2 linked regions of the Homo sapiens genome follow. The protein of the gene in region 1 interacts with the protein of each later gene in a pairwise test. Each region holds a gene or a part of one and is shown on either strand. Other genes may lie near its edges. The genes, in order: MSS51 and TFG.

Region 1 (3,823 bases):
GAGTACTCAAGGAGTAAGACTACATTTGTTCTGGGGAGGTGGAGGTTGAACCATACCTGTTATGAGAGGACAGCTGCAAACTCGTGGTGTTTTTTCTAAAAGTGATATAAAAAGTGAGTTGTTCCAGATAGAGAGTAAGGTATCACTCTGTCTGGCAGAATAATTATATTCCCAATCCCTCCTGCCTTGTCTGCCAAATGTAGTCCCCAAAATTGGTGCATCAGCTCTCATTCCTCTCCCTACCTTCCTTACCCATTCACCATCCTAGGTGCAGGAATATCAGTTCCTTTCCTCCGATAACCCCAATCATATTTATAGTATAAGAACTATTTCTCTCTCATTCTCTCAGGTGCAGAAATGTCTATTACTGTGGTCCAGAGTGCCAGAAGTCAGACTGGCCCGCACACAGGAGGGTTTGTCAAGAGCTTCGTCTTGTGGCTGTGGACCGTCTCATGGAATGGCTTCTGGTCACAGGTGGAGTGGTGGTGTTGAGGATCTCTGCCATAATGGTCATAGTTGATTGCATTTAAAGGAAGATACAAAATCATATTGTTATGAAAAAATGAGGAAGTGGGGCAAAGGATGGGGCACGCCTGCTCACAGGTTGGCAGAGTGAACATGGAGGGAATATTGATCATTAGTGAGGGGGAAATTTTGAAGCCAGGAAAGCATTAGGTTACTTCTTATTTCTTCTTTCCTACAGGTGATTTTGTTCTACCCTCAGGACCTTGGCCATGGCCACCTGAAGCTGTACAGGACTGGGACTCCTGGTTTTCTATGAAGGGGTTACACCTAGATGCTACATTGGATGCTGTGCTAGTTAGTCATGCTGTGACCACCTTATGGGCCAGTGTAGGACGGCCAAGGCCAGACCCGGATGTCCTGCAGGGATCTTTGAAGCGGCTGCTGACAGATGTCCTGTCACGGCCCTTGACTCTAGGCCTAGGACTTAGGGCCTTGGGGATAGATGTTAGGAGGACTGGGGGAAGCACAGTGCATGTGGTTGGTGCTTCCCATGTGGAGACATTTCTTACTCGCCCAGGGGACTATGATGAGCTTGGTTACATGTTTCCTGGGCACCTTGGACTCCGTGTGGTCATGGTGGGTGTAGATGTAGCTACTGGCTTTTCACAGAGCACCTCAACTTCACCCCTGGAACCTGGCACAATTCAGCTTAGTGCCCACAGGGGCCTCTACCATGACTTCTGGGAGGAGCAAGTAGAGACCGGGCAGACACACCATCCAGATTTGGTGGCGGCATTCCATCCAGGTAAGAGTCATTGGTTCAGGGGAATAGAGGGTGGCTCCCCTGAGAATTTTCCATCCTGAATCTTCTGTCTTTGGAACCCCATTCATTTGGTCTCATTAAACACAATATGATGACAACTTTTCTTTTTTTTTTTTTCTTTTTTTTTTTTTGAGACGGAGTCTCGCTCTGTCGCCCAGGCTGGAGTGCAGTGGCGCGATCTCGGCTCACTGCAAGCTCCACCTCCCGGGTTCACGCCATTCTCCTGCCTCAGCCTCCCGAGTAGCTGGGACTACAGGCGCCTGGCTAATTTTTTGTATTTTTAGTAGAGGCGGGGTTTCACTGTGTTAGCCACGATGATCTCGATCTCCTGACCTTATGATCCGCCCGCCTCTGCCTCCCAAAGTGCTGGGATTACAGGCGTGAGCCACCGCGCCCAGCCTGATGACAACTTTTCTTGATAATTTGCCATATGTACTACACTTGGGTTCAGAATTTTTCATTGAAGAGTGGATGATGATGATGATGATAATGACTGGGGATAAGCAAGGTGAGGGGTGGGGTGCTCACAGTCAAAGAAATATCTTGCTCTTAGGGTCTGCTTTAGTCTTTCCCTATTCCCATTTTCATTTTTGTTCCACAGGTTTTCATTCCTCCCCAGACTTGATGGAGGCTTGGCTGCCCACCCTGCTGCTACTTCGTGACTATAAGATTCCTACATTGATTACTGTTTACAGGTTTTGACCTCATCCTATTTGTGATACTTCCCTGACTTTACATCTCTCTTTATATAGATGAGCTCATTTTTGCCCCCCTCTTGCTCATCTACCTTCTGGTGAGGATGTTCTTTTCCGCATATGGCTTTTTTATCCCCTTGGAACAGTCCTTTGCTAGTTAATGGAATATTTAATGAGACATTTGGGAGGGAAAGATAGCCCTTGCCTAGTCCAGCCTTAGGCAATTTGGGGGATGGGTGATTACAGAAATGTCAGGCTCTTGGGCAGTTTTTCCTTTATCTCTGTCACAATCAGTAGAGTAATTTTTCTTCTCTCTCTTCTACAGCCATCAGGAGTTGGTATCCTCTTTGCAGATTCTGGTGGAACTGGATACACACATCACTGCCTTTGGGTCTAATCCTTTCATGTCCCTCAAACCTGAACAGGTCTATTCCAGTCCCAACAAGCAGCCAGTATACTGCAGTGCATACTATATCATGTTTCTTGGAAGCTCCTGTCAGCTGGATAATAGGCAATTAGAAGAGAAAGTGGACGGCGGGATTTAAATAGATCATAACTGGACATCTGGAAAACGGGGAGTTTGTGATGAAATTACCCTGCTAATGCCAGGTTCTTGCAAACTTTGAAAAACATTATATTCTAAACCTCATTTACTGTTTGGGTAAAAATTCTAAGCTGAATGAGAGTTTCTGTATAACATAACTGGTTTCTTTCTTTTTTTGAGATGGAGTCTTGCTCTGTTGCCCAGGCTGGAGTGCAGCGGCATGATCTCGACTCACTGCAGCCTCCGCCTCCTGGGTTCAAGTGGTTCTCCTGCCTCAGCCTCCCTAGTAGCTGGGATTACAGGTGCACACCACCACACCTGGCTAATTTTTGTATTTTTAGCAGACAGGGTTTCACCATGTTGGCCAGGCTCGTATCAAACCCTTGACCCCAGGTGATCTGCCTGCCTCAGCCTCCCAAAGTTCTGGGATTACAGGCATGAGCCACCATGCCCAGCCAATGTAACTGGTTTCTAAGAGTTTAGCCACAGTAGCTTCTAGAGATAGGAAATTAGATTTAGTGGGTGGGAAGAGGCCCTGATGCTGGTCTTTCCAGAGCTTATAGTTGCTAACACTTTTCTTTGTAAAGAAGTTTACCTTTTGACTGGAACCAGATGGCACTGAGAAAAAGAATGAGAACCACCTTATTCTTCTGAAAAAGACTTTCTTCTCATCCAGTAATTTGGGCTAAAAAATGGAAAGATGTTGATGACTTGAAGTGATGCAAGAATGGACAAGTCAGGGAAGTCATTGGGAACATGGATGAGGTTGTAAGCATTGGTACAGTGTCCTGTTTCCTGACTTTTTTGAGAGAAATGTCTACTTTTCCTGTTTTCTCTTGGGGACTTTTGACCCTAGAGTAGCCCTGGTGTTATATTTTAGATATCCCAAGCTATATCAGACTTTACCTGAATATACTGGAGTTACTTATTATCCCCCATTCTATACCCCAATAAACTCAGTTTGGGGCTTCTTAAGTCACTTGTTTTATTTCCTATTCACTGGCAAGTATTACTCATCTGCACATAACACCTCAAGACTGGAAGTTTCTCTCTTGCCAACAGAGTAATTAGCATCAGTTCTCTGGGTCTGCCACTCTGTCACACATTTGCCTCATGTCATCCTTTTCTTTTTTATTTCTTTTTCTTTTTTCTTTTTGGAGACAGAGTCTTGCTCTGTTGCCAAGGCTGGAGTGCAGTGGCATTATCATAGCTCTTTGCAGCCTCAGACTCCTGGGCTCAAGTGATCCTTCCATCTCATCCTCTCAAGTAGTTGGGACTTACAGGTACATACCACCA
Region 2 (3,823 bases), on another chromosome or scaffold:
CTAAAGACCCAGCAAGCAAACTTATCCTACCTTCTTCTGCCTGTTTTGTGATAGCTGCACTGGCAGCTGATTGGGTGGTGCCCACCAACACTGAAGATGGGTCTTCCTCTTCTGGTTCACTGACTCAAATGTCAGTGTCCTCTGGCAACACCCTCACAGACACACCCAGAAACAGTACTTTACCAGCCATCTAGGCATTCCTCACTCTAATCAAGCTGACACCTAATATTAACTTAATTAATTTAAACTTAGCTAATTTAAACTTTTAATTGAGTATAATTTGGAGCTTAGTGCTCTTAAACCCACTGAGTAGATAATAACAGATTATAGGCCATACTAGGAATGTAAATGCAAGGTTCTTAAAAGTTCTGGTAAGATGTATCAGTGTGCTCCAAAGACCACCAGGAACACACCTGTAGTTGAATGAAGTTGGGTTTACTGACTTACTGCAGCAAGGGAGAATGAATACCACGGAGAACAATAGGATGTCTTACAAGTATGTTAGAAAAGTATTTTTTTTTGGGCTTGGGTTTGTGTTACCTGATTTTGGATAAGGTTCAAGGAAGTAGAGCTTTGCTCTGCATTGGATGCTCTCAGGAAGTAGAGATGATTCTATGTTTGGGTATCTTATCAAATCTTATCTAGAAGGTGAGAGGAATGAATCTTACTAAATCTTATCTGGAAGGTGAGAGGAATGAATTGAGGCTAAAGCTGCAGTTGGTAAAGTAGTAGCAGTTACTCATATTAGCCAGGATAAAAGGTTGTTTGGTCATTTTTCTGGTGTGGTCAGTGTTCTTGTTTTTGTCTGGAGTTTTGACATGGTTATGGACTGTTGATCTATCACAGATTATAGTCTTGTGTGATGTTGGTGTTCTTTGAAATATTTATATTCAACGGGAGAACACCACAGCCTACCTGTGAGTGCCAGGCCAGCTTCCAGCAACACTAAGGCCTGTCTTACTGTACCAGACCAGTTTCTGGCTGCTAGGAGCTGTTTTTCTCATCAAATATTGGAGAAAAAACAGTAATACCAAGTGAAAACCAATAATTGATGTAGGTAGGAGATTGTATTGAACTTCATAGCTATGCAGGGAGTATGTGAATTACTGTGAGTTTTCTTCTAAAAGCTTATAATTGGTGGTTTGATTTTGAAACATGTTTAACAAAGAATCGCCCTGAACTTTTATTTTCACGTAGATGTCCTTTTCTAATTAGGTGCTTCAGGAGTTTGTATGTATGTATACTGGCAATGTGCAAAGCATTTTAGTTTAATTTTTGAACGCCTGTCTTGGGGTTTGCAATCAGAGCCTTGTGTCACTTTCTTTTTAAAAATAACCTGAGTGGTGACAGTGTTTGTTGCTGAATGAAGGATTTCATTTTTTTCAGTCAACTGAAAATCATTTGGACAAAATGAATAATAAGTGAAGTAATGTTGCTTTCATTAAAAAATCACAACTAGAGATTACCGAGTAATCTCTGGCATTTTGTGGCTTATATACTGTTTCTGGAAGTAACTGCTTTGAAGGACAGTCATGATGTAGATAAGTTCTGCATATATTTTTAAATTTATATTTATTTTTTAAAATTTTTTGAGACAAGGTCTCCCTCTGTCATCCAGGCTGGAGTGCAGTGGAGTGATCTCAGCCAACTGGACTTCCCCTCCCGGGATCAAGCAATCCTCCCACCCCAGCCTCCTGAGTAGCTGGGACTGCAGGCATGTGCTGCCACACTTGGCTAATTTTTTAAGGTTTTTGTAGAGATGAAGTCTCACTGTATTGCTCAGGTTTTTCTTGAACTCCTGGGCTCAAGCAGTTCTCCCTCCTTGGCTTCCCAAAGTGGTGGGATTACAGGTGTGAGCCACCATGCCTGGCCCTGCATATATTTTTTTAACGATTTCTTTTAAGATCAGCTATTTTAGTTAGCTGTTTTTTTTCAAGACAAAGTTATGCAAGAGGGATAACAGACCTATCAGTCATGTTATATCTTTAAACATGTATAGAGTAAGGTATTTTTGTATTATTTTAAGAATAGCGTGAAATAAAATGAGCTTTTTAAGTTATATAATTTTTATTAAATTTAATAATTTCTATTAAATTTAATAAATATTTAAGAACAGCATGAAATAAAGTGAGCTTTTGAAGTTATGATTTTTATTAAATTTAATCATTTCTATTAAAAAGTAGAGCTCGGATTTTCCTACCAAACCTTTTTACCAGTAAGGTCATAGGCTATAGGTATGGCATCAAGAAAGACTGATAATTCTGCTTTTTTTCCAAAATAAGTTATTAGCCATAGAGAATTCTTTTTTTTTAAAAAAAAAGTTACTCCATTACATTGATATCTTGTTTTTGTTTTTTTAAAGGAATTGTATTTATTTTTCCTTGTTGCATATTATTAGTATACTTATTCATGAACTTCTAATTTTAAGCAAATAAATGTTTTTATTTCAGTTAATGGCCAGCCAAGACCCCTTGAATCAAGTCAGGTGAAATATCTCCGTCGAGAACTGATAGAACTTCGAAATAAAGTGAATCGTTTATTGGATAGCTTGGAACCACCTGGAGAACCAGGACCTTCCACCAATATTCCTGAAAATGGTAAACCCTGAATCCATTGTATTCTGACTTATTGTTCTTACGTCTTTTTGGAGGTTTTAAAAAACTCTTTTTAAGTAGGAGAAGGATGGCATCCCCAATGTCACTCTTGTTTCTTCCTCTGCCTCTCTACTAGTATTTATGTCTGTGTTCCTAAACTTTGCTGTTCATCAGAATTACTAGGAGGTTTCATTATACCAATTTCTGGATCTCATCATAGACCTACTGGAGCGTAGCACCTGGAAATCCCATTTTTAAAGTGTTTTTTGGGTGATTCTTTCGCAACTAGTCTTAGACTTTTGGATTTGTTACACAGGTCAGTTTTCAAATCCTTTTGACACATGAACCCTTTTTAGTATAATAGATAAGTAATGAACCTTGGGAATTGAAAATCATTTCATGAATAATTACATAGTGTTGGAAGTATTTTCAACTAAAAATCACTTAGATTAGTAATGTTCATTAAAAATGGTATGTTGTAAATTTGAAACACAGTTTTTAATAATAATTAAAGAAAAACTAATTTTTTCCCCATTGTATAATGACATGTACTGTTTGTGTTAAGATAAAGCAAAATGTGTCAACATTTGGAACTGACATAATTTTGGGACCGAATGTATTTTAAAATGTGGACTGAACTTTAAGTATGTGTTAATGACTTGAAAGTACAGTTAAAAAACTGCTTTCTTCTTTTAAGATTCTTAGATGTTGCATTTAAAGAAAACTCTTATTATTATTTTTTTCTTTTTACAAATTCTTTGTTTGCTTATAATTTTCATAGTTTAAAACTGTCCATATTGTGAAATAGTAATTTAAAAAAAGTCTAGACTGGATGACTGCATATAAAGGGCTTAACATGAGATAATTTTTGTGGATAAATGGTATGTATTCTATTTTTGGCCACTAAATATTTTGGAAGTTTTTGTTTTCTATTTTTATTTTAGTTACAGTTTAAATAAAGATGTATTTTCCATCATTTCTCTCTTCCTGTCTTCTAATAGTCATATGGAATTATGTTAATGATAGATGTTTAATAAATATTTGGTGATTGATTATTCCTAGTTGCACTTCTATTTCAGAACATAATGGAGATTTGCTGAATACTATAATGAGATCCTCTTGGTCACTTTATGATGAAACCTTTTATATTTCAGGTCAAAGAAGGTTGCCTATTCTGAGCCCTACCTCTCCAAACAAAAATTTCCAATTTTAGATCAAGAATCAATGAA

The links.
Region 2: the proteins of MSS51 (region 1) and TFG interact in binary tests that used the Homo sapiens proteins (3 or more experiments, as listed by UniProt).

What each region holds. Positions count from the first base shown.
Region 1 is NC_000010.11:73,423,258-73,427,080, reverse strand, and holds the end of MSS51 (putative protein MSS51 homolog, mitochondrial), read left to right. Parts: intron 1-349; coding exon 350-474; intron 475-703; coding exon 704-1,270; intron 1,271-1,889; coding exon 1,890-1,983; intron 1,984-2,308; coding exon 2,309-2,528; 3' UTR 2,529-3,502; downstream 3,503-3,823.
Region 2 is NC_000003.12:100,726,262-100,730,084, forward strand, and holds part of TFG (protein TFG), read left to right. Parts: intron 1-2,450; coding exon 2,451-2,597; intron 2,598-3,823. UniProt on the Homo sapiens protein: Plays a role in the normal dynamic function of the endoplasmic reticulum (ER) and its associated microtubules. Required for secretory cargo traffic from the endoplasmic reticulum to the Golgi apparatus.